3 separate regions of the Homo sapiens genome follow, and regions 1 and 3 are each linked to region 2. The links come from fine-mapping of genetic effects on gene expression. A gene starts in region 2. Each other region holds a variant in brackets. All regions are shown on one strand. Distances are from middle to middle.

Region 1 (8,000 bases), 100 kb after region 2:
ACAGTTTGTGTGAACATAGTTTTCACTGTTGGGAGGTCCCAAGCCCAGAAGCTTCTGTCTCATGAAGTTGGATTATGTCACCCTCCCAACACGTGGTTGCATTCACCAACCTGAAAATTCGCTGAACCTCATTGTTTAGGGACTTTCATGGAGGTTTCATCATGTGGGCATAATGGATTTTATTAACTCAGTCTCCAGCCTCTGTCCCCTTCCTGGAGGCTGGGAAGATGGGACTGAACATTCTAGGCTTTTAATCAAGGTTTGATCTTTCTAGCAACCAGCCCCATCCTGAAGCCATCTAGCATCCCACCAAGAGTTACCTTGTTAAAACCACAGAAACTTCAATCGCTCGTGAAATTCCAAGGGATTCAGGAGCTCTGTGGTCAGGAACAAAAAATGCTTCATGGTTAAAGAGAAGCCCAAATCATCTTTTGCCCTGATAGCAAATTCCATTTAAAGGCAGTAACGCTTGACCAGGCACTAAAATTTGGAATTCGGAATGATTCTACGCAGAAATCTAGCATGTTGCCACGAAGCCTGGGGCAGCAGGGGGTGTGTGTGTGTGGTGGTGGGGGTTGTGGGGAGGTTGGCTAAAGCCCAGCTTCTCACAGTGTGGTTCTCACCCTTGAAACTTCAGTTTACCTCTGGAGCTTATTAAAAATGCAAATCCTCACAAACTGACCTTTTAGATTAAAAATCTCTGTGTATGGGGTCTGGGAATCTGTGTTTTTAAGGCTTCCAGGTGATTATTAGGCAAGCAAAAGCTTGAGAAAGCCCTGCTGTTTTTCTCAGGCCACTCTGCCTTCTTTCAGCATCTTCTGGTTGTCATGTGGGTGCCTCTATCTTGTGGGTGCTACAGTTACTTCTTCAGTAGTACACCTGCAACTTTATCAGTATATTAAATGATACTTTGTAATCATTTTATATTGCCTCCAACTGGATTCCTGGATTCTCACAGGCATTATCACCAATGGCATTTAGGAACCTGACTCATATGTCTTTAGCATTATACGGACTCTAGCATAGAATTTGGTAGGTAACGTGTAGAAAAAAATCTGGAAGGATACATGCCAAACCACTGGCAGTGGTTACCTCTGGGGAGACTTCCAGGATTATAGAGAAGTAAAGGGAGGGGCTCTAACTTTTACTCTCTACTTTTTTTTTTTTTTTTTTTTTTTTTTTTTTTTTTTTTTGGAGACAGGGTTTCCCTCTGTGGCCCAGGCTGAAGTGCAGTAGCTACAATCTCGGTTCACTGCAGCCGCCTCCTCCTGGGCTCAAGCAATCCTCCTGCCTCAGCCTCCCAAGTAGCCAGGACTACAGGCATGTGCCACCATGCCAGACTTTTTCTGTAATTTTTGTAGAGACAGGGTTTCACCATGTTACCTGGGCTCAAACTTCTGGGCTCAAGCAATCCGTCTGCCTCAGCCTCCCAAAGTGCTGGGATTATAGGCAGGAGCCATCACGCCTGGCCTACTCCCTACCTTCGTGTATTTGACTTTTATGCACAGAAAATTATCTGTCTCATTATTTTTATAGAAGAATTTTGATAGAGAATTCTGATGTGTCTCATTTTTATGTAGTTTTGCTAAAAGTAGTAGACGGTATTGTAATATCCATTATCCACACTTGGAGAACTTCTACCTATATTTATTTATTGAGAGTTGCATCTATTTTAAGACATCATCTGCCTTTTTCTTCTCATCTTAGTAGTGAGCTACATTTTTAGAAATAATGCTCAGGCCGGGTGTGGTGGGTCACGCCTGTAATCCCAGCGCTTCGGGAGGCCGAGGCAGGCTGATCACAAGTTCAGGAGTTTGAGACCAGCCTGGCCAACTTGGTGAAACCCCATCTCTACTAAAAATACAAAAAATTAGCCAGGCATGGTGGCAGGTGCCTATAACCCCAGCTACTTGGGAGGCTGAAGCAGGAGAATCACTTGAACCCAGGAGGTGGAGGTTGCAGTGAGTTGAAACTGCATCACTGCACTCCAGCCTGGGCAACAGAGCAATATTCCATCTCAAAAAAAAAAAAAAAAAAAAATAGAAAGCTCAAATGAACAGTCTTAATGTAAAAGATGATGTTGTGTTGACATTTATTGCCTATGTTGTGTTTAATACTAAAATATGTATTTGAATGTTTTGTTTTACTTATTGATGAGGTTCTTTTAATTTTGAACATAATGGACCTTCATTTGGGTCAGTGTCATCTTTATTTTTTGAAACAGCGAACACACTTTTAACCACTGATTTATTATTTTAATAGTGTACCCTCAAATCCTGAAAAATTTAAAAATGCAGTTTATAAAAGAATTATTCTTTGCACAATTACTGGCAAACTTATTGTTAATAAACTACTGTAAGGTGATGCATTAAAAAATCTGGATCAGTATGTTACAGCCACCGTGTTGTGACTTTGGTACTAATTTCTCTGGTACAAGTCCTTTTGAGTTCCAAATGCCTGTGAACCAATTCCCCAATGCCTGTTCTTTCTACTCCCACAATATCTTTGTTCACACAGTGCACCATGATATTATTCGGTCTTCATTAAGCACCAGTGCAATTGTGTAAACACAAACACCAATGCAAGCCCCCAAAACATGTTCCGTGGTGAGGTGGCCATTCAGATGTTGTAGACTCAGCACTGCTGTCCAATAGAACTTTCTGTGATGATAGAAATATGCTATTCCTGCGCTTTTGCTTTTCAGTGAGATAGCCATTAGGCATAGGGAGCTTTTGAGCCCTTGAAATGTGGCAAAGGTGACTGAGGTTCTGAATGTTTGTGTACATAATTTTTTTGTGGTTGCTGTTTATAGGAGACAGGGTCTCACTGTGTCGGCCAGGCTGGCCTTGAACTCCTGAGCTCAAGCAATCCTCCTGCTTCGGCCTCCCATAGTGCTAGGATTACAGGCGTGAGCCATCGTGTCCCACCCGTACATAATTTTAACTAATTTAAATAACCACATTTAACAAGTGTCTACCATATCGGACAGCACAGATCTAGAGCAGTGTTTTTCAGACTCTAATGTGCATGTGAATCTTCTGAGGATCTTGTTAAAATGCAGACTGGAATTCAGTACATCTGGTCTGAATCTGTGATTCTGCATTTTTTTTTTTTTAAGACAGAGTTTTGCTCTTGTTACCCAGGCTGGAGTGCAATGATGGGATCTTGGCTCACGGCAAACTCCACCTCCCGGGTTCAAGTGATTCTCCTGCCTCAGCCTCGCGAGTAGCTGGGATTACAGGCATGTGCCACCATACCTGGCTAATTTTGTATTTTTAGTGGAGACAGGGTTTCTCCATGTTGGTCAGGCTGGTCGCGAACTCCTGACCTCAGGTGATTCGCCCACCTTGGCCTCCCAAAGTCCTGGAATTACATGCGTGAGCCACCATGCCCGGCCCGATTCTGCATTTTTAATTAGCCCCAAGATGCTCCTGGTCTGGGGACCACATATTGAGAAGCATGTCTCTAGACTAGATATACTTATGTCCATTTGTTTTAGATTATTACCTGAAAGGAAATACTGAAAGTAAAAATTCTCACAGAACTCTAGGATTTTCAGGGGGCCTCATACCCCAATTTAGGGATCCCGTCCTGGTGTGCTACTGCTACAGCATACATAGTAGCAGGCAAGCATATAGCCAGGAAGGTTCAGTGAGCTTGCCAAGGGCTCACCCTGGGATGCATGACAAGTTGAGTTTTTCATTATGCTTTTCATATAGTATTAAAAAGAATCTTATGGTAAAATAAAGACACTTATTTCATCTTTCCCACTCTTTTTTTAAAAAAACAAATTAATTTTTCCTTCTTGTAGGTTTTGCGTGTGAAGCTGTGTGGAAATGTGAAATACTACCAGTCACACCATTATAGTACCGTGGTGCCACCTGATGGTAAGCTTTCTTACCATTTATTTGATTCATATGTTAATTGTTTCCCTTTCTTCCAAATAAAGAGCTGCGAGAGTTTTGAGCAGAATAGACTTTTCTTACACTATCCCCATCCCACCCCACCCTGATTGGGTTCACTTCCACCTTTTTGTGCTCCCATAATATAGCTGCTGTCTTTTGTCAAATTCCCACCTCA[G/GC]AATCAGAGGAGTCAGAGATGATAAGCAATAGTCGGGTGGGTGTGGTGGCCTGTAATCCCAGCACTTTGGGAAGCCACGGCAGGCGGATCACTTCAGCTCAGGAGTTTGGGACCAACCTGGCCAACAAAGCAAAACCCCATCTCTACAAAAAATACAAAAATTAGCCAGGTGTGATGGCACATGCCTGTAGTCCCAGCTACCCAAGAGATTGAGGTGGGAAGATTGCTTGAGCCCAGGAGGTAGAGGCTGCAGTGAGCCATGATCGTGCCACTCCAGTTTGGGCAACAGAGTGAGACCCTGTCTCAAAAAGAAAGAAAAAAAAACAAATAGTTTCTGTCCTCAAGAAAACTAGAACTTAAGTGTTTACCTGAGAAGACTTTTTTTCTTTTTCATTTAATCAGGGTCTAGCTGTGTCACTCAGGCTGGAGTGCAGTGGCACGATCTCGGCTCACTGCAACTTCTGCTTCCCAGGCTGAAGCCATCGTCCCAGCTCAGCCTCTTAAGTAGCTGCAACTACAGGCGCACACCACCATGCCAGACTTAATTTTCGTATATTTTGTAGAGATGGGGTTTCGCCATGTTGCCCAGAGAGCTCTCAAACTTCTGCGCTCAGGCAGTCCACCAATCTGAGCCTCCCAAAGTGCTGGGATTACAGGCATGAGCCACCATGCCGGCCACCTGGGAAGACTTTAAGCAGATAATAAAGTGTGGTATGTGCTACACTAAAATGTTATAGAATGGTAGGGAATATGTAAACTGTAGTATAATGAAGGCATTATTGGAGCAATACAAATTTTTATAAGACTTCAGAGGTTTGTGAATTTCATGTTTGAGCATTCCTTCTAGAATTCTTGTATTTATGGTTTTTTTTAAAGTAAAATTTACTCATTTTTTTTTCTTTTTTTCCTTAACAGAAATAACAGTTATTTATAGACATGGCCTTCCCTTGGTAACACTTACCTTGCCATCTAGAAAAGAACGTTGTCAATTCGTAGTCAAACCAATGTTGTCAACAGTTGGTTCATTCCTTCAGGACCTACAAAATGAAGATAAGGGTATCAAAACTGCAGCCATCTTCACAGCAGGTATATATGTATATAATTTTACAACTTTGTCCCAGGGTTTCTGTCTCTCCTGAACTTTTGTTTGGTTCTTTACTTTTCTAGAAGTACATTGTTTAATTCATTAGATAATAAATGGTTGGTCTTTATTCTTTCATTTTTATGCATCAACACTATTTTAAAAACTGTTTTGGCCTGGCGTGGTGGCTCACACCTGTAATCCCAGCACTTTTGGGAGGCCGAGTCAGGCGGATCACCTGAGGTCAGGAGTTCGAGACCAGCCCGACCAACATGGAGAAACCCCGTCTCTACTAAAAACACAAAATTAGCCACCCGTGGTGGTACATACCTGTAATCCCAGCTACTTGGGAGGCTGAGGCAGGAGAATTGCTTGAACCCAGGAGGCAGAGGTTGCAGTGAGCCGAGATCACGCCATTGCACTCCAGTCTGGGCAACAGGAGTGAAACTCCATCCCAAGAAAAGAAAATTAAAAAAAAAAAAAATTTAACTTCATTGAATGAAAAATTAATGGAATAAATTTAATGTAAATTTCAGTTACTTATTTTATAAACTTAGCCTTAAAGGTTTTTCATGAGAAAATCTTAGTGGCACAGGCATTAGCGTGCAATTCTCAGCAAAATTTGAATAATTAGAAAACAAAATGCAGTTTTAATTATTAAAATAAGCCAGTGAATAATTAAAGTACACAAAAAATTTGTTCACCACTGTTATAAAGCAATTACAGTCTAGTATGTTTTTTGGCAGAATTAGTTCTTAGGAAGAATATACATTTTTTAAAAAACCAGAAGTATGTCATCACTTAGACATTTAAAATTTAGAATACAGCTTTCATGTTCTCATAGTCTGAAATGGTCTTAGACCAACTGCTTCTAAATAGAATAAAGAATTATTTACCCTATCCCACTACATAGCAGCTGCAAATATAGATAAATTAATAAATTTGCATTATTTCATTATGATATTAAATACTTAGAATAAAGTTATTTAGGTTCATGATTACTGTTGCAGTTTTGAAAGGGAAATAAACAGACTTTTTCCCTATCCAAGTTCCAAATTAATTAAAAGATAGAGAAGTTGGAAAATGGAGATTAATTGATTCATTCAACAAATATTTATTGAGCACCTAATGTATGTCAGGCACTGTTCTATACGCTAGAGGTAGTGCAGAGAACAAAAGGGATAAAAACTCCTGCCCTTATGGAGCTTATATTTAGGAGGAGAAAAAAACAAGATAAATTATGTATTATGTTAAATAATAAGTGTTACGAAGAAAAATAAAGCAGAGTGTGGAAGATGTGTGTGGGCAGGGGTGGGCTTGATAAGATTACATTTGCACAAAGACCTGGGGGAAATGAGGGAGGGAGTCACGTAGAGGGAAGAGAGCTCTGGGCCGCATGCGGTGGCTCACACCTGTAATCCCAGCACTTTGGGAGGCCGAGGTGGGTGGATCACCTGAGGTCAGGGGTTTGAAACCAGCCTGGCCAACATAGCAAAACCCCTTCTCTACTAATAATACAAAAATTAGCCAGGTGTAGTGTTGCATACCTGTAATCCCAGCTACTCAGGAGGCTGAAGCAGGAGAATCGCTTGAACATGGGAGGCGGAGGTTGCTGTGGTCCGAGATGGCACCACTGCACTCCAGCCTGAGTGATAGAGTGAGACTGCATTGAGGTGGGAGCCTACTACACAGTGACCGCAAAGGAGGGAGCTGGGAGAAAGGAGGAGTTCTGAGAGGTGGGGAAGGGCAGATCAGGAAAGGCTTATTGTAGGTTGTTGTTAGGACTATAGATTTAGCTGGAAGGGACGTTTCTTCCTGCTAAAACCTGGATCAGAGAATAAGGTTTTAGCCCTATGGCACAATGGGCTTCCTAATATTTCATCCTTGAACTAGACAGACATTTCCCCCAGGCACAGGAACACTGGAATGTCCATGGGCGTTTTCCACAGGGGCAGGGCCCTCTTTCTAAGCTTCTAGGGGCAGGCAGACCCAAACCTGGAAGTCAGAAGGGCCTGCACTGAGCAGCACTTGCCTGGTGGTGTGTACTCAATTAGTATTGAAGTGAATGAAATAAGAGAGGTTAAAATGATAGATGTTTATCCTGCTTATTTCTAAAAATAAAGTTAGTAGCTTTGAAACAGAAAGCACAAAGAAAGAGAATAGAAGTCTTAGAGAAAAGGGACTCTTTGGACTGAGTGCAAACACCCTATCGGGGGTTTAAATTGATACCCAAGAATACATGAAAAATTTAACACTGTATCACTAGTGCTTAAAAATGTTTCACGTCAGTCTTTTGCTATTCATACCTTTGTATAAAGGATAATATAGTATTTCAACTGAGAAATCATATTCAGTGTATGTCTTTTTTAGTAAGATTTTAAGGAGCTGGTTTGAAGTCATTTACATGTAAATTTTTAAATGACACTTGGAAAGATAAAGCGATTGGTGTGTTGCTGATTTTTTTTTTCTTCTTTTTAAAAGACTCTGTGGGTGGAATTTGCCTGCATTTAATTTGGGCTTGAAAAGAGTGTTCTAAGCTTGTCACAGTTTTGCCCATTGTGTGGGTTGAATTATTTGGCAATTTTTTGGAAAATGATCTCACTGCAACTGATGAACAGCAACCCAAACAGCCAAATTCTAGGAACAGACACAGGTGCAGACTTGATTTGCAGTCTTCCAGAACAAAAGAACTATAGGGAGGCAGACAAGAGGCAGCAGCCAGTTTCTTCGGGATGTTACTAGTGTTAGTCCTGTCATCACACATATTAATATAGCTAAAATAGCTCGGGTTGAATGTAACCAAATGAATGTCAGGCCGGGATTTGAAAATACACATCCA
Region 2 (10,852 bases):
TGTTGGCCAGGGTGGTCTCGAACTCCTGACCTCAGGTGATTCACCCGCGTCGGCCTCCCAAAGTGCTGGGATTACAGGTGTGAGCCACTGCACCCAGCCAACCCCATTTTTAAAAGTTTTTTTTTTCTTTTTTTTAAACAAGAGAAAATAGATACATGTTGGTCAGTGCTAACTGTCCATATTCACATAGACACACAGTGTACTTTCTGAGCCCAATATACAGAGAAAGGAGGCAAGAAGCTAGAATTCTATGCACTGCTACGCAGGAGCCTAGCACCCTCCAGCTTCCAGCAGAGCGAAGGGAGCAGGTTTTTCTTTTTTCCCACAGAACTTGGTGGTGTTGATTCCATACAGTTTTTATTCAGACAGGAAGGGATAAAAATGAATTTCGAACAGAAAGGGGTAGAGACTCTTTTCTCAATGTAGTCTGCTCAAGATATTTCCCCCAATTAAGTGTAGAGAAAAGAGACCTCAAGAATAGGGCGACTGAGCACAGGAGGCAAAAACAAAACAAAATAAAACAGACTACAACTTGCTCCCAGGGACTGGAGAAAATTTAAAAAGGGGAAGGTTGGAATCCATCAGTATTCTATTAGTCATCTCTTTCATCCTTCTCTCCTTCCTCCCCTTCATCATCATCTTCTTCACCTTCATCTTCATCCCCTTCTTCATCAGTGTCTTCTAATCCTTCCTCCTCCTCCTCATTATCATCTTCTCCTTCTTCATCATCCATATGGGGAACCAAGTAGTACTGTAATGGGTTTGGCCAAATATCATCTTTGATGTCCTCTCCTAAGTCATCGGCCCCTGCATCAGAATGGTCAGTAAACCAGGTCAAGAAGCTCTCTGGTGCCTCATGCTGCCTCTTCCTGCTGGCTTTATTCTGCATTTGACTTAAACGTTTCGTCACATCCTTTCCAGATTTCCATTTGATTTCAGTGGATTTTGAAGATGGATTACCACTCTCATTCAGATGAAATTCTTTGGAGAGAACTTTATTTTCAAAGTAAGGATTTTCATCAAAATAAAAATCTACTCTGTAACCTGATTTAATATCTTCAAATTCTGTCACTTCAACTCTGGTCAAATAATGCAATGTCTCTTCGTTTTCCTTCCCAAGCAGTGCAGACACTTGTAAATGATTGCCAAATGTTGTTACCCCCAAATTTAGGATTTTAGAGATCAATTCTGACCTCTTCTGAAAAAATGGTTGGCGGAGTTTGTTATATTTCTGTTCTACTTTCAAAATCTCCTCATTGTCTTGTTCATTAAGTCTGTCTATTTCATTTTGTATTTCATCAATGTGTTCAATTGCTTCTTGCTGTTCTTTTTCGCCCTTCTTTGGCAAGCCTACAGAGGCCGAAGTCTCCTCTGGTCTCAGAACAGGAGGTGGTCTTGGTGTCTTCTTTCGAGACAGGAGGGAAGACTGGCATTTGGGGGCCAGGCTGCTAGGGAAGCCCAAGAACCAGACCACCAGTCTCCTTGCTCAGGCAGAAAACTCCAATTTCTTATATTTAATTTCATGAACATAGCTTATATGTTAGCAAGTTTAAGGTCATTTTTGAGATTCCCTTTGAGGCCCACCATGTGGGCATTACATTGTGAATCATCCATATGTGTTTGAAATAATGTGTACTCTCATTTGGGTACAGAGTTCTTTAATACTCTATTAGCAATGGAGGTCCAGGACCTGGAGACAGAATAGGGAAAGGAATATCCTTCTCTATTTACCATTAAAATTCTATCAAAGTGGGAGGCCCAATGGATAACAGGAGTATTCCTGGAAGCCATTCCTACGTGGGCATGGCTAGCAATATCTTAACAATACATAGAAATGACCATGAACCACACAAAAATATCCCACTAAACCCAAAGTAAATGTATCTCCAGCTCAGCTTGCTCTTTGCTTCCTAGAGAGACAGAAAGTAGATTAGTAGTTGCCTGGGGCTGGAGGTAAGAATGGAGAGTGAGGCAAATGAGCCTGAGGAATCTTTCTAGAGTGATGGAAATGTTCTAATTGATTGTGGTGACTGTTGCACAACTCTGTAAATTTGCCAAAAATAACTTTTAATAAATGAAAGTTACGATATGTAGATCATACCTTAATAGAGCTGTTTACAAAGTTTTTTTTTTTTTGAAAAGCGAGATCAGAGATTCGAATGTGAAAAGGCTGTGACATATAAGTAATACTTATGAACTAGCTCACATTGAGTAATCGTTTTGTCTCATCAAGAGTCCTATATACTGTGGGAAAGTTTGTTGTGCACCCGAAACATCTATGTGTGCCGAGCGACTTTGTGGACAGTGCCTCCCCGGTAAACCCGCTCTGTCTGCAGTGTCCGGAGCTTCTCCCACAGGAGTTTGCTAATCCCACCTTTGTGGCCAGATTCTGTGCTGCAAAACGGACATCTCCTCCCCCTCTTCTCCATTCCCCTCCTTCCTAATAAGACTCTTTTCTGGAGAACTGAGGTCAACATCAGATTTCAAATATTTAAAGTGGATACAAAACTATTTCAGCAATGCAGACAATTAGTTGCATTGTTGTGGTCAATGCAGTTGTTGGTAAAACATGTCTCCTGATATCCTACACAACAAATTTCCATCCTAATAGATACAGACTGTTTTTGACAACTATGCACTCACAGTTAGGACTGGTGCAGAGCCATATACTCTTAGACTTTTAATTCTGCAGGGCAAGAAGATTATGACAGACTATAACTCCTGAGTTATCTACACAGATATATTTCTAGTCTGTTTCTCAGTGGTCTCTCCATGTTCATTTTAAAGTATGAAAGAAAAGTGAGGGCCTGAGATAACTCACCACTGTCCAAAGGCTCCTTTCTTGCTTGTCACAACCCAAATTGATCTCAGAGGGTCTATTATTGAGAAAATTACCAAGAACAAATAGAAGCCTATCACTCCAGAGACTGCTGAAAAGCCGGCCCACAACCTGAAGGCTGTCAAGTATATGGACGGTCCTGTACCCACACAGCAAGATCTAAAGAATGGATTTGACAAAGCAATATTGGCTGTCCTGGAGCCTCCAGAACTGAAGAAGAGCTGGAAGCCTATGCTGCTATGAACATCTCTCCAGAGCCCTTTCTGCACAGCTGGTGTAGGCATCATACTAAAAGCAATGTTTAAATCAAACAAAAGATTAAAAATTAAAATTCATTTATGCAATAATGACAAATACCCTGCACCAACCCACATGCATCCATGTGAGACAGGGATTAGAGGTATGGCCCACTTCTCCCTCCCAATACTAGTTAATTCTGAGTAATTGTGTATTGTTAGAAAAGTGATCAGTACTCATTTTTGGTTTTTGTTTCAAAAAACAATTTTGTTTTTACTTAAAAGCAAGGCATGCTTGTGATGACTGTGTAACAGACTAATTGGAATTGTTGAAGCTGCTCCCTGGGTCCATTCTGGAGGGTAATCTGGGACATCTTAGTGGGGTTTTATTTTTTTCTTTTTTGGAGGAGGAGTGTTTGTAGGGTTTGTTTTTTAGTCTTTTTTCTTTTCTTTTCTTTTCTCTTTTTTAATTCATTAACCAGTGGTCAGTCCTTAAGAGGAGAAGGACGGATTGACTCCATATTCGACTTCCTAAATCTAGTTTAAAAAACATGTTCCCTATCTGGGGTGCTTTTAGGAAAGAATATAGTAAATGCCTTATTTAATAACATACCTCTTTTTGAAAGTTACCTTTTCTCTCCACCCTTGAGTAGGCTCAGTATTTGATGAAACTCATGAAAGTGGGTGAAAATTCTCTTGCCCCTGTTCTTTTCTGGGATGCACTAAATATGTGACTGTGACTTTCAAGGAAATTTGTTTGCCGGTTGCTGATTTTTGGGGAAGTTAATTTCTAACTTCTTTAACTGATGAATAAAGAAAAGTATTGCACCTTTGAAATGCAACAAGTGGATTGAGTTTGTAACTTAAAAAAACTTTTTTCCCTGTCAGTCATTGTCTTATATTATTATAGATTTGCAATCAATAGTATATGATGTTTCTAGAATGCAGCTGAAGACCTGGTATGTAGAGGCAATGTGAAGAGCGGTAGCAGAAGACCGACATCTATGGAATGATTCACAGCCTCTCAAGTTATAAGGATGGAGACCTGCTTCATGAAGAAGTTGGGGTGTGGTGGGGATGGATAGAACACTTAACAACATGAGATCAGTCAGGGGAATCTCCTCACTTCTGTGTAGCAGACGAGGAACCCAAGAGCCCCCAAATGAGGCTCTCTGGTTTGTTTTTTTTTTTGAGATGGAGTCTTGCTCTGTCGCCCAGGCTGGAGTGTAGTGGCACAACCTCGGCTCACTGCAACCTCTGCCTCCCCGGGGTCAAGCAATTCTCCTCCCTTAGCCTCCCGAGTAGCCAGGACTACAGGCACGTTCCACCACGCCCGGCTAATTTTTGTATTCTTAGTAGAGACAGGGTTTCACCAATGTTGGCCAGGCTGGTCTTGAACTCCTGATCTTGTGATCCGCCCGTCTTGGCCTCCCAAAGTGCTGGGATTACAGGCATGAGCCACCACGCCTGGCTGGCTCTCTGGTTTAATAAAAATTGTGTAAAGAATCTTATTGAAAGGTGACAATGTGCTGGCGGCCCTCGCTGGCTCTCAGCGCCTCCTTGGCCTCAGAGTCCGCTCTGGCCATGCTTGAGGAGCCCTTCAGCCCGCTGCTGCACTGTGGGAGCCCCTCTCCAGGCTTGCGGAAGCTGGTACCAGCTCCCTCTGCTTGCAGGGAGGTTGAGGGAGAGACGCGGGTGGGAACCGGGGCTGCATGTGGCCTTGCGGGACAGCGCGAGTTCCGGGTGGGCGTGGGCTCCGTGGCCCCGCACTCGGAGGGCGGCCGGCACCCCCGGCCCGGGCAGTGAAGGGCTTAGCACCTGGGCCAGCAGCTGCAGAGGGGGGCGTCAGGTCCCCCAGCACTGCCAGCCGGCCCGCGCCACGCTCAAATTCTCACCAGGCCTCAGCCACCTCCCCATGGGGCAGGGCTCGGATCTGCAGCCCGCCATGTGCAAGTCCCCCCGCGGTGGGCTTCTGCTAGGCCCTAGCCTCCCTGAGGGGCACCGCCCCTGCCTCAGCGGCGTCCAGTCCCATTGACTGCCCAAGGGCTGCTGAGTGCAGGCACGAGGCACGAGCGCAGGACTGGCAAGCAGCTCAGCCCGCAACCCTGGCATGGCATCCACTAGGGGAAGCCAACTGGGCTCCTGAGAGGGGTGGGGACTTGGAGAACTTTTATGTCTAGTTAGAGGATTGTAAATGCACCAATCAGCACTCTGTCTAGCTAAAGGTTTGTAAATGCACCAATCAGTGCTCTGTGTCTAGCTCAGGGTTCGTGGATGCACCAATCAGCACTCTGTATCTAGCTAATCTCCTGGGGACTTGGAGAACCTTTATGTCTAGCTAAAGGATTGTAAACACACCAATCAGCACCCTGTGTCTAGCTCAAGGTTTGTAAATGCACCAATCAGTGCTCCGTGTCTAGCTAATCTAGTGGGGACTTGGGGAACCTTTATATCCAGTTAAAGGATTGTAAATACACCAATCAGCACTCTGTATCTAGCTCAGGGATTGTAGACACATCAATCAGCACCCTGTCAAAACGGACCAATCAGCGCTCTGTAAAATGGACCAATCAGCAGGATGTGGGTGGGGCCAGATGGGGGAATAAAAGCAGGCTGCCAGAGCCAGCAGTGGCAACCTGTCTGGGTCCCGTGCCACGCTCTAGAAGCTTTGTTCTTTTGTTGTTTGCAATAAATCTTGCTGCTGCTCACTCTTTGGGTCTGCACTGCCTTTATGATCTGTAACACTCACCGTGAAGGTTTGCAGCTTCATTTCTGAGGCCAGTGAGACCCGAACCCACTGGGAGGAATGAACAACTCCGGACGCGCCACCTTAAGAGCTGTAACACTCACTGCCAAGGTCTGCAGCTTCACTCCTGAAGCCAGCGAAACCACTGAACCCACCAGGAGGAAGAAACTCCAAACATGTCCGAACATCAGAAAGAACAAACTCCGGACACGCTACCTTTAAGAACTGTAACACTCACCACCAGGGTCCGCGGCTTCATTCTTGAAGTCAGTGAGACCAAGAACCCACCAATTCAGGACACATTATCAAGATTCTTCACAAATGTTAATAGGGATTTTTATCAGTTTTAGTTGTAGTTTCCAATTTCTAAAAATGTTCAGGTAATTTTTTTACACCTTTCAGAACCTAGCTCATGAGTGTTGAATCAATGCTTTTTCATGTCAATTCTTTGTATAGGCATTCTTTTCAGTTGTATTAAACAAGAACCCTTCACAACAAAAAAACAAAAATACACGCTTCTTTCACTTGGAGCACTAGCTAATAGGAGGAAAAGATTCAGGTAAGGTAATTTACCTTCCCATATGAACTTAAAGTTTCATGTGTCACTCTCCATCTGGGGCAACTGTATTTTGAAAGACATGCTAGTTAACACAGGTGAATCAGCCTTTAATAGTGATAAAGTTTTTACTATAGTAGAAACTTGTGATTCTTTCCCTTTTCAATAAGGAAAGGAGATTACCGCCAGGAGTGATTTGCCACTTATTGCAGGTTTGCCAATTTTGATTCATTAACTGAACCCTCTTGCAGATTCAGGAGATAAAAATGCGGAGTGCCCAGTTAAATTTGAATTCAGATAAACACCAAATAATTTAGTATATCCCAGATATTTCATTTTTAAAATAATAAATGTGACCCATGCAATATTTGGGACATACTTCACTATTTGTATCTAAAATTCAAGTTTAACTGGGCATCCTATATTTTATCTAACAACCCTACTGTAATTGGTTTAGGTTGCTCTTTAATGCCTTTGGTTTGCTTTCAAAAATAAGTAGTCTCAAAACAAAGCATCCGATTTCCCAGTAGTTAGAAGAACTCAATACCGGTTCCGAAGCTTCTTCAATTAAAAACGTGCTTCAAAAGAGAAGCCAATTCTGTGGGAGATACTTTCCCAAAAAACTCGGGTTTGGGCCCCTATACCGTGAACTACAAACCTCCGCAGGGGTAGGCCCGGGCTGCCCGCCTCACACCGCACTCGCCAGCGAGCAGGGGCCCGGCACCGCAGCCCGGGGCAGAGGCCTTGGAGGTTGTGGAGGTGGGAGAGGCCTCGGCCGACCCGCTTCAATCCGTCTTCTCCAAGCTCGGTGGGGAAAACAAACTTCCTGAGCGGCCCTGCCCCCTCCAGATGCCGGACGCTGTTTTCGTCTCATCCCCGTCTGGGTTGGATGGCGAAGACGGCGCTCAGAGCACGCAGCACCGGGAATTAACAGCGAGTTTTGAAATCTAGAGCTCGCAAGGTGTGCGTCGCCTGCTGCTGTTCATTCCAGAGGGTCTTCTGCTGGAGAAGGAGGGGGCCCTCGACCTCGGGCTCCCGCTCTCGGGCTCCCGCTCTCTCGCTCTCTTTTTTTTTTTTTTTTTTGGTCGGAGGAAAGAAAACAGCCCTGCGCCCGGATGCGTAGAGAGCCGACAAGTGGAAACAGGGACACACCCTCCCGTGAGCCCGCCCAAGCTGGAGCCGCGGCGCGCTGAGCGAGCAGGCGGGGCGGGAGCGCCCACAGCTCGGAGCCACCAGGCGCTGACGAGGAGCCCGGCTGAGGGAGGATGCGCCGCTGACGCCTGCGGGAGCCGCGCGCCTGGGGCGGGAGGATGCTCCAGAGGGGCCTCTGGCCGTGGCGCACGCGGCTGCTGCCGACCCCTGGCACCTGGCGCCCAGCGCGCCCGTGGCCGCTGCCGCCTCCGCCCCAGGTAAGAGCGGGTGCCGGGCTGTGGGGGTTCGGGGTAGGCTGGTGCAAAGTTTGCGTTGGACAACTTTGGCGGGAGCAAAAGCCGAGCGGCCGAGCAGTCAACTGCGTTTTGCTGGCTGCCGGGCTCCGCGCGCCGGGCGGTCCCGACAGGTGGTGGCCGGGCGGCCGACGTGGGTCACGGAGGCCTGGGCTGAGGTCAAGACTCCGGGCCCGGGGAAGGTGAAGCCAGAGCGCTGCGGCTGGGGGTGCCTCACCCGGGCCGAGATAGGGTGCGGGGACCACCAGACTTCGGCCTGGGAGCAGCAGAATAACCTGGGAGGCAGTTTCTGGGCTGCAGCTCTCGGTCAGGAGCAAGTTTCCAAAGCCGCTGCGCCGCGGGGCCGGTTCCCTCTTGGTGATCAGTGCCCGAGCCCCTAAGGAGCCCGGAAACGATGAACGGGGCAGTGACCGTCCCGGGTGTGGACGGTCGCAGGAGAGTGAAATTTCCATCCTGAAATCTGCGAGCACCTCCCTTTCCCAGAAGGAAGAAAAACTCGCGTTTTGTTCAGACACCCGAGAGACGGGTGAATCATGAGTGTGCTGGTGAGTAACAGTTGGCCTGACACCGTTGTATTGTGGTCTGTGGAGAACCGTGGCTTGGAGGAGTAGAGAGTGGATGTGCACCAAAAAAGACTAGAAGAAGGGGAAAGCGCTGAGTTTAAGGAGGATTGCGATGGAGCCTGACAGGAGCCCGGGAGTGCAAACTCTGACCCAGATGAGGAAAGACAGCCAAAGCCTTCAGGGTGTGTGTGGTTGGGGAGGGAGCTGTTTCTGAGTTTTCGTTTGTTCCTCCCCCACACTGTTAAGATTACTTTCAGATTGTTAAAGGCTTAAAAGCCAAAAAGTAAGCAGTGTGATTCTCTTGTCACTTTCACTTCCTGTTTATTTTGTTCTTTTTTTTCCTTCCCCCCCTTTTCCTCCAGCTGTCTGAGGGCTTCAGTTTCAATTGATGCAGGGAATATTTAAGTGCATTTTTTTTTCCTTTTCATTGAGCTTGTGACCAAAGGATTAAGTGCATTCAGAAAATCAATTCCAGGAATGTTTGAAAGAGAATGAGGAAGGCCATGTTGTTACTAAATGTAAGAACAGGGGCAAACTCCTTAAAATGTAAAATGGTAGACTTATAAAGTCATTGGGGAGATGGGCTTTTTATACTTTTAAAGGTTGTACTTTTACTGTAAGTGTTGCATTGTGTAGTCAAAGAGATACCAAACATTAAAACAACCCAATACGAGGAACCCCTTTCACATGCCATTTTAAACACAGATTATTGTTTTTTGTTGTTGTTTTTGGAGACGGAGTCTTGCTCTGTTACCCAGGCTGGAGTGCAGTTGTGCGATCTCGGCTCACTGCAACTTCCGCCTCCTGGGTTCAAGCGATTCTCCTACCTCAGCCTCCCCAGAAAATAGGATGACCGGCGCGCGCCACCGCACCCGGCTAATTTTTGTATTTTTAGTAGAGACGGGGTTTCACCATGTTGGCCAGACTGGCTGGTCTCGAACTCCTGACGTTGTGATCCGCCCGTCTCAGCCCCGCAAAGTGCTGGGATTACAGGGGTGAGCCACCGCGACCAGCCCCAAGTGTTTTCTATTAAGTCCATTTAACACGTTGAGTAGCATTTTTGTGGATCCCGGGACTGGCTGCCCTTTCTCAAATTATCACCTGCAAATCCTTTTCTCCATATTTCCCATCTGATGCTGTCTAGGGTGGTGCCATTGCATACCTCAGCAGGAATGTGGATACCCTTTTAAAAGAAAATGGTACCATCGGGCTTATTAGGCCTAATAACAGGGAAACAGTAGTTAGGAATCATCGTAAGAAGCGTTATGTTTGAATGTTTCTAATTTGCAAATTTTTGTTTTAAGCCAACTGTCCAGCTATAAAGACAATTTTCAGAACTTGAGAAGTGGAAATGCTGTTCTTTATATACAGCTTTTACATTTTACCATGAGTAAACCGATAAAAATATTCTGGCTCTTGAGGAGTTTTAGCTAGGACTACTAAACCATTTTCTGCTAATCAAATTACCTGGCTATCGGGACATTTTTCATTCTAAGATATCACTCTTTTGTGGCTTTCCCACTTGTTATGAAATATCCTGTGGGTAAAGGCAAGTATTATTTCTATTTATTTTTTTTCCCAGAAACATTCAGACCCCTAGAGCCTATGAAGCAGCTAGAAAAACAAGTAGTTTGTGACCTGACAGCTCATAAAATCTTAGCTTGCAAGGACTTGTCGTAAGCAGTATTTCAAATAAGCGTTCCCAACTATAATTGGTCTTTCTGAAGTCTTTCACACTTCTATGAGTGTGCCTTATAGGAGCATTTAATAACTTTGAAAAATACACAATTCTCATACTTCATATTGTATGTGAGCAATTGTCTGCTAGTGTTTTCTGGGTGAGGGGAAAAAAAAACAGTTTGTTGACATGGATATACAGAATTGTTTTTTAAAGAACACATTTAGTCTGAAGCGTAGTAGAGCAAGAGCATATTGTATTCATCTTTGGGCAAGGCATGGCCTGGTGGCCATAATCACGCTCTGGTGGCAGCATCTCTGCTTGTCAGCACTCTAGCTGAGTGGTTGTCAGGGCAATCCATGGCTCCTGCTGATGTTTCTGTGCACAAAGACTCAGCTTTGAGTAATTGTGGTGCTTGGTGAGTTACATCTGAACAGAAAGCCCTTGCCTAAATGTGCCTTTCTTAATTTGGATTTTGTGCTACTTAGACTGAGAAACTCCCTGATACGATTTCATGTCCCCAGTACAGCATTTGAGTCCATACATAAGCTATGTTTAAAAAATTTTTACATCAAGCACTCTGCAGAGCAGCTTAAGTATCGAGTATGCTTTTTTTAACTTCTAGAAACAAAGCATATGGATGTTTAAATTCCACCACAAGATGTCAACTTAGAAATTGTTTTCATCTTTTTAATTTAATGAACATATCGTTCTTGTTTGACATGTTCCTACTATTCTATCTCTTGTATTTGCAGTTGGTACATTGTATTCTATTCTATAAAACTAACT
Region 3 (8,000 bases), 120 kb after region 2:
AAGTGACCCATGTCAAAAAGAAAAAAAAGAAAAGGAAAAGAATAATTCTCTCTCATTTTTGGCCTTTATTAGGAAATGCCACAGACAAATGTTATGAGTCAGTTTAGGTTGGTGGTGTAACATGAATTCTGTGGTGCCCATGCTTCTGAAAGAGCAGAGCCAAGGGCATTCATTGTTGAACTCAGATAAACATTTCGTGCCACTTGACAAAGACTCTCACCTTGACTAAACTTCAGTCAGGTTCCTCGGAACCCTCTTCTCAACTAGGCGTTAACCATGGCCTATAAAAACTGTAAACTCTCAGCACAGATTTTGTCAACACTGCCCCCCTCACACCACACACACTAAGAGAGTTGAACCAACATTTGCATAGTTTCTCATAGCTCAAGGCCACATCATTTGGATGACAACTCTGGTTCTTTTAGAATGTCTGTCTGAGAAAGCTCAGTACCCTCTGGAAAATTTACTGTTTATTCCAGCCAAAACCTGGTGATAGGTCAATAAGCCATACAACCTCATCTTTAGAGCAGTGCTGTACTTTGAGTATGTTTCCCAAAGTTGATGTGTTGGAAACTTGATCCCCAGTGTTGTGGTGTTGGGATGTGAGGCGTATTGGGAGGTGTTTGGCTCATGGGGGCACTGCCCTAATGAATAGATGAATGCCATTTTCACTGGAGAGGTTATCTTGGCAGTAGGTTCCTTATAAAAGGATGAGTTTGGCCCCTTCTTGTGCTGTTGTGCATAAACACTTGCTTTCTCTCTGCCTCCCTTTTGCCATGGGATGATGCAGCAAGAAGGGTCTCACCAAATATGCCAACACCTTGGTCTTGGACTTCCCAGACTCCAGAACTGTGAGGAAATAAAATGTTGTTCTTCCTAAGTTGCCCAGTCTGTGATATTCTGCTATTGCAGCAGAAAACAGATTAAGACAGAAAATTGGTACCAGAAGTGGGGCTATAAGAAACATCTGAAAAGGTGGAAGTGGCTTTGGAATTTGGTAATGGGCAAAGGCTGGAAGAGTTTGGAAGAGCAGACTAGAAAAAGCCTATATTGCCATGAACAGAGTGTTAAGGACAATTCTGGTCAGGGCTCGGAAGAGAATAGCTGTAGGAAGTCTAAAAGTTTTTAGAGATTTACTTAAGTGGTCATGATCAGAATGTTTGTAGAAATATCGATGGTAGGCTGGGTGTGGTGACTCGCACCTATAATCCCGGCACTTTAGGAGGCTGAGGCGGGTGGATCACTTGAGGTCAGGAGTTTGAGACCAGTGTGGCCAACATAGTGAAACCTTGTCTCTACTAAAAATCCAAAAATATGTATATGGTAAAGGCCAATCTGATAAGCTCTTTGAAATGAGGAATATCTTACTGGAAGCTGGAATAAACACCATTATTGTTATGGACTTGCAAAGAACTTCTGAGCCCTCACCAGAATTGCCCTTAATACTCTGTTCATGACAATACAGGCTTTTTCTAGTCTGCTCTTCCAAACTCTTCCAGCCTTTGCCCATTACCAAATTCCAAAGCCACTTCTACCTTTTCAGGTATTTGTTATAGCAGTAACTCTGCTCCTAGTACCAATTTTCTGTCTTAATCTGTTTTCTGCTGCAATAGCAGAATAGCACAAGACTGGGCAGTTACAAAGAATTGTTTTCATATCCAAGGACTTTATGGAAGGCAGAATTTAAGAGTGACAAACTAATTTACCTGGCAGAAGAAAATTCTAAGCAAAATATTGAAGAATCTGCATGGTTTCTTTAACTGCATACAGTAAAATGAGAGGAGAATAGATTTAAAGACAGAATTCACAATTAAAAATGAGGCAGAATGTAAAATATTTGGAAAATTCACAGCTGCCCCTTGAGAATCCAGAACTTTAGAGCTACCAGTGTGCAGCAGCATCCTGGGAGAGCTGCAGGCATGAAACCTCAACCCATAAGAGCTACTGCCTGGGCTGAGCCCAGCAAAGCCATGGGGGCAGGACTGCCCAAGATTTTGAGGACCTAACCCCTGCCTTAGTGTATCCACAAGGTGGCATATGAATTCAAAGATTGTTCTGAAGTTTTAAGATTTAATGTTGTTTACTACCCTGTTGGGTTTTGGACTTACGTGGGACCAGTTACCTCTTTTTTCCTATTTCTCCCTTTTGCAGTGGAAATATCTATCCCATACCTATCCAGCCATTGTATTTTGGAAGTACAAACTCCAGCTGTGAGTTTGATTTCAGACTCACAGCTGGAGGATAATTTGCTTCAGGATGAATCATGCCTAGATTCTTGCCCATATCTGATTTAGATGAGACTTTGGAATTGGACTTTTGAGTAGATGCTTGGGGCTCTTGGGATGGAGTGAATGTATTTTGTGTGGGAAAAGGACATGAATTTGAGGGGCCGGGGCAGAATGCTATGGTTTGAATGTGTCCCTCAAAATTCATGTGTTAGAAACTTGATCCCTAATGCAAAGCTGTTGGGAAGTGGGACATTTTAGAGGTGTTTAGGTCATGAGGACCAACGTGAGTGGATTAATGTCGTTATCATGGGAGTGTGTTATCTTGGCAGTGGGTTCCTTAATAAAGGACAAGTTCAGCCCCTGCTTGCTCTCTCTCACCCACGTAATGCTTTCTGCTACATTATGATGCAGCAAGAAGGCCCTTGTCAGATGCTGGTGCATTGATCTTGGATTTCCCAGCCTCCACTAACAAATTTCTGTTCCTTATAAGGAAACAAATTTTTTTTTTTTTTTTTTTTTTTTTTTAGTTTTTATTGATCATTCTTGGGTGTTTCTCGGAGAGGGGGATGTGGCAGGGTCATAGGATAATAGTGGAGAGAAGGTCAGCAGATAAACACGTGAACAAAGGTCTCTGGTTTTCCTAGGCAGAGGTCCCTGCGGCCTTCTGCAGTGTTTGTGTCCCTGGGTACTTGAGATTAGGGAGTGGTGATGACTCTTAACGAGTATGCTGCCTTCAGGCATCTGTTTAACAAAGCACATCTTGCACCGCCCTTAATCCATTTAACCCTGAGTTGACACAGCACATGTTTCAGAGAGCACGGGGTTGGGGGTAAGGTTATAGATTAACAGCATCCCAAGGCAGAAGAATTTTTCTTAGTACAGAACAAAATGGAGTCTCCTATGTCTACTTCTTTCTGCACAGACACAGTAACAATCTGATCTCTCTTTCTTTTCCCCACATTTCCCCCTTTTCTATTCGACAAAACCGCCATCATCATCATGGCCTGTTCTCGATGGTCGCTGTCTCTTCGGAGCTGTTGGGTACACCTCCCAGGTGGGGCGGCCGGGCAGAGGCGCTCCTCACTTCCCACACGGGGCGGCCAGGCAGAGGCGCTCCTCACTTCCCAGATGATGGGCGGGCGGGCAGAGACGCTCCTCACCTCCCAGACGGGGCGGCCGGGCAGAGGCGCTCCCCATTTCCCAGATGGGGCGGTGGCCGGGCAGAGGCGCTCCTCACATCCCAGACGGGGCGGCCGGGCAGAGGAGCTCCTCACCTCCCAGACAGGGTGGCGGCCAGGCAGAGGCACTCCTCACCTCCCAGACGGGGTGGCGGCCGGGCAGAGGCGCTCCTCACCTCTCAGATGGGGCGGCCAGGCAGAGGCACTCCCCACTTCCCAGACGGGGTGGTGGCCAAGCAGAGGCGCTCCCCACATCCCAGACGGGGCGGCCGGGCAGAGGTGCTCCTCACTTCCCAGACGATGGGTGGCCGGGCAGAGGCGCTCCTCAATTCCCAGACGGGGCAGCTGGGCAGAGGCGCTCTCACTTCCTCCCAGATGGGGCGGCCGGGCAGAGACACTCCCCACTTCCCAGACGGGGTGGCGGCCGGGCAGAGGCGCTCCTCACATCCCAGACAGGGTGGCCGGGCAGAGGCGCTCCTCACTTCCCATTCGGGGCAGCCAGGCAGAGACAGTCCTCACTTCCTAGATGGGGTGGCAGCTGGGCAGAGGCGCTCCTCTCTTCCCAGATGGGGCAGCCAGGCAGAGGCGCTCCTCACTTCCCATTAGGGGCAGCCGGGCAGAGGCACTCCTCACTTCCTCCCAGACGGGATGGCCGGGCAGAGGTGCTCCTCACTTCCCAGACGGGGCAGCTGGGCAGAGGC[A/G]CTCCTCACATCCCAGACGATGGGTGGCCCGGCAGAGACACTCCTTACTTCCTAGACGGGGTGGCGGCCAGGCAGAGGCTGTAATCTTAGCACTTTGGGAGGCCAAGGCAGGCGGCTGGGAGGTGGAGGTTGTAGTGAGCCGAGATCACGCCACTGCACTCCAGCCTGGGCAACATTGAGCACTGAGTGAGCGAGACTCCGTCTGCAATCCCAGCACCTCGGGAGGCCGAGGCGGGCAGATCACCTGAGGCCAGGAGCTGGAGACCAGCCCGGTCAACACGGCGAAACCCCGTCTCCACCAAAAATACAAAAACCAGTCAGGAGTGGCAGCACGTGCCTGGAATCCCAGGCACTCAGCAGGCCGAGGCAGGGAGGTTGCAGCGAGCCGAGATCATGGCAGTACAGTCCAGCCTCGGCAAGAGAGGGAGACTGGGAGACCGTAGAGAGGGAGTGGGAGAGGGGGAAACAAATTTTTGTTCTTTGTAAATTATGGGGTCTGTGGTATCGTGTTATAGAAGCAGAAAGTGGACTAGTGGACTCAGACAAGCAGTTACTTTAGAAAGCTTGCAATTATGAACTTTCTCTCCCGCTTTGAGGTATAATTTTGTTGTTGTTGTTGTTGTTGTTGTTGTTTTTGAGACAGAGTCTCTCTGTGTCACCCAGGCTGGAGTGCAGTGGTGCAATCTCGGCTCACTGCAACCTCTGCCTTCTGGGTTCAAGCAATTCTCCTGCCTCAGCCTCCTGAGTAGCTGGGACTACAGGTGTGTACCACCATGCCCAGCTGATTTTTGTATTTTTAGTAGAGACGGGGTTTCACCCTGTTGGCCAGGCTGATCTCAAACTCCTGAACCCAGGTGATCCACCCACCTTGGCCTCCCAAAGTGCTGGTATTACAGGCGTGAACCACCTCACCTGGCCTGAGGGTATAAATTTTTTATCACCCAGACCTGTCTTCTCAAGGACTTGGGAGTCTCTCTTTGAAATGTTAACGTTCAAGGACATAACTCTGGCTCTTACTCCCAACCCGTGGGTGCCTGGCTCTGACTTGCATCCTGTCATAAGGTATGAGAAGTTTATTTCTCTTCTGGATAGGTACCAGTTAACAAACCCAGATGGCCCAGTAACATTAACCAACTATCCACTTTTTGTAAATTTTCATTTCCCTGACTCTGTTCAAGCCCCTGCTGTTCACCCTGCCCATTCTGTCATTCTTTCTTTAAAACAGTCATCTCTGCACAAATTGAAGTTGAGTTCAGTTCACGCTGGACCCTATTGCAATAGTTATTAATAAAATTTACCCTTGCTGTTTTAGTGCCTAGCTTTGCCTATCTTCCATCTATGCCTTTTCTCTGTATGTATATGTTTTATGTACCAATACATTTTTCATTAACAAAAGGACTCTGACTCTTCTACAGATCTCAAAGCCTAAAAGAGAACACCTAGCTTTCACCCCTCTGTGGCAGCTATAGCCTAGACTATGGAAGGGGGTAAAGACCACAGCAGTCTTGAATTGGGTAGTGATGGAAGAAAAATAACTTCAGGACTACTGACACAAACTGGAAAACTTACTGGGCTGATACCAACTCTAGACATATGTCTCTCTTGTCTGCAGTTGTTTGCTGCTGCCTGGTGGGAAGGTCCATCTTCCCTTCCTCTCACCTTGTCCTCCCTCAGGTTCTCTTAACAGTGATAATGAACAATTACAGCTCTCAGAAGGGTATCAATCTGAGGGACTTCTCATAGCAGAGCCTAATTTTATATGGACTTATAAACCCATGGAGGAGGTGGGATGAGGGAAGTCTATAATCAAGAGAACTTTATATTAAAAACTCTGAAACCGTAACTCCTGTAAGAGTTGAAAAATAATTTTCCCTTTACTCTTAGTTCTTAGCTGGGATGGACCCCTGTGATAAGAGAGATTACTAAGAAGAAAACAAACAGTAGTTTATTAATGTGTATATTCCATAGACACATGGGAGGTATCCAAGGAATGAGTAATTCTCAAAGAGGTGGCTCTGAACCTCAGCTGATAGAGCATCTTCTACAAAGAATAATACATTTTTAGAGTTGTGACAAGTCAAAGGAAAAGGTCCTTGAGTCTCTGGGGTCAGCAAATTGTGGAAAAGCAAATAAGTTGGTTAAAGGTAGTCAAAAGCTACTAAAGTTTGTCTGTAGATTCCTCTGGTGCAGTCTCCAAGCTGAAAAGGGTCTAAAGTTGTCTCTGGCGATCTACCTTTGTTCTTTCTGGTAGAGAGTGTTACCGGGGGTCCTTGCTCCCAGAACTCCCAAGATGGTCGTGGGCCACTTCCAAGATGATGGCAAGCCTCGTGTTCTCTGACCTGGGGTTCTTGGCCTCACGGATTCTAAGGAACGGAATCTTGGGCCATGCAGTGTTACAGCTCTATTAGAAGTCGTGGGTCACGGAAGACAACCATGGAACCCAGTGACTAGTGTTCAGCTCAATTAGGACAAACCCAGGCACTTAGCCGTGCAGGAACAAATGGCAAGCCTTTAGCCCGATCTGGAGCGGCAAAGGGGTGCCTCGCTGGATCAGGAGCACAGTGGACACCCTGCTGGATCCGGAAGAATGTAAGTCAGCAGCGAGTCTGCTACGGCGGCAAAACAGCAGTGGTGGACAGTGAGCGAAAGCTCAGCTCGAGCAGTAACAAACACGAACCAGAAGAGTGCAGTTTCAAGATTTAATAGTGTGAAATAGAGTGAAAACAGAGCTCCCATACGAAGGGAGGGGACCCAAAGGGGGTTGCCATTGCTGGCTCGAATGCCTGGTTTTATATCCCGATCCTTGTCCTTCCCGCTGTGCTCTCAGGCAATAGATGATCGGCTATTTCTTTACCTCCTGTTTTTGCCTAATTAGCATTTTAGTGAGTTCTCTGGTTGGGTGTGAGCCAAGTTGCAAGCCCCGTGTTTAAAGGTGGATGCGGTCACCTTCCCAGCTAGGCTTAGGGATTCTTAGTTGGCCTAGGAAATCCAGCTAGTTCTGTCTCTCACGAGGTCTTTGTAAAATTTGTGTCCTGCTTTTGGGCAAAAAGGGAGAGGCCAGAGAGCCTTTCTTGTAGCTGCTTATGCTCAATTGCCTTCAGCTGAAAATAATCCTTATGCCAAAGTCATTTTTTTGGTGACTTTTTTTTTTTTTACCTTGTATATGAACTGCTCTTCAGATCCACACTTTGTTGTTTACTGTGACTCTCTTTGTTGAAAAGTACACTTGAACTGCTTTTCAAATGTATATTACACCTTTGTTTACATGTTTGTACACCAGCTTCCTTACCCTGTGGATCCTAAGATAATATTTGGAAAGAGAATTGGGGACCGAAAGATTTACACACCCTGCGGGAACAATGTGGTGACTGGCTTGTTTCCCTTGTGTCTTTTCTCAGAAAAACCAAGTAATGAGCACACTGCTGAGATGGAACACATGAAATCTTTGGTTCACAGACTATTTACAATCTTGCATTTAGAAGAGTCTCAGAAAAAGAGAGAGCACCATTTACTGGAGAAAATTGACCACCTGAAGGAACAGCTGCAGCCCCTTGAACAGGTTAGGAAGCATCACGGTTGAGTATATTTGAAAATAATACCTAGTGTTTATTGAGTGCTCCTCATGTGAGCATTTTTCTGAATGCTTTCCATATGCTAATTTTCTCCTTTACGCCTCACAAAAAACCTGTAAGTTCAGTGCTTTTATCTTCCTCATTTTTCAGATGAGGAAACTGAGCAACAGAGCTGTATCGCTAATACATGGTAGAGCCTGGACTTGAGCTCACGTGGCCTGTGTTCAGAGCTGCCATCTTAAACTCTATGCCATGCCTCCTCTCCAGAGATCAGTCATAATGTCTCTGTAAATAAGTATAATATGAGCAGGGCAGCACTAG

The links.
Region 1: its variant is fine-mapped to the expression of MCUB in whole blood (INTERVAL, PIP above 0.99).
Region 3: its variant is fine-mapped to the expression of MCUB in whole blood (INTERVAL, PIP above 0.99).

What each region holds. Positions count from the first base shown.
Region 1 is chr4:109,655,200-109,663,199 of GRCh38, forward strand. It overlaps MCUB (mitochondrial calcium uniporter dominant negative subunit beta), which reads left to right. Exons shown (of 8, transcript NM_017918.5): 2 at 3,812-3,887; 3 at 4,996-5,166. Among named protein-coding and RNA genes, the nearest start is that of CASP6, 44 kb to the right of the region's middle. The variant G/GC (reference allele first, on the strand shown) is at 4,081.
Region 2 is chr4:109,552,651-109,563,502 of GRCh38, forward strand. MCUB (mitochondrial calcium uniporter dominant negative subunit beta) reads left to right here and starts at 7,596. Exons shown (of 8, transcript NM_017918.5): 1 at 7,596-7,786. The coding sequence starts at 7,688. It also overlaps the pseudogene SETP20 and the pseudogene CDC42P4. RefSeq lists a silencer at 7,543-7,862 and an enhancer at 8,283-8,482.
Region 3 is chr4:109,675,077-109,683,076 of GRCh38, forward strand. MCUB (mitochondrial calcium uniporter dominant negative subunit beta) reads left to right here. Exons shown (of 8, transcript NM_017918.5): 5 at 7,506-7,666. It also overlaps a transcript of CASP6 not described here. Among named protein-coding and RNA genes, the nearest start is that of CASP6, 24 kb to the right of the region's middle. The variant A/G (reference allele first, on the strand shown) is at 4,108.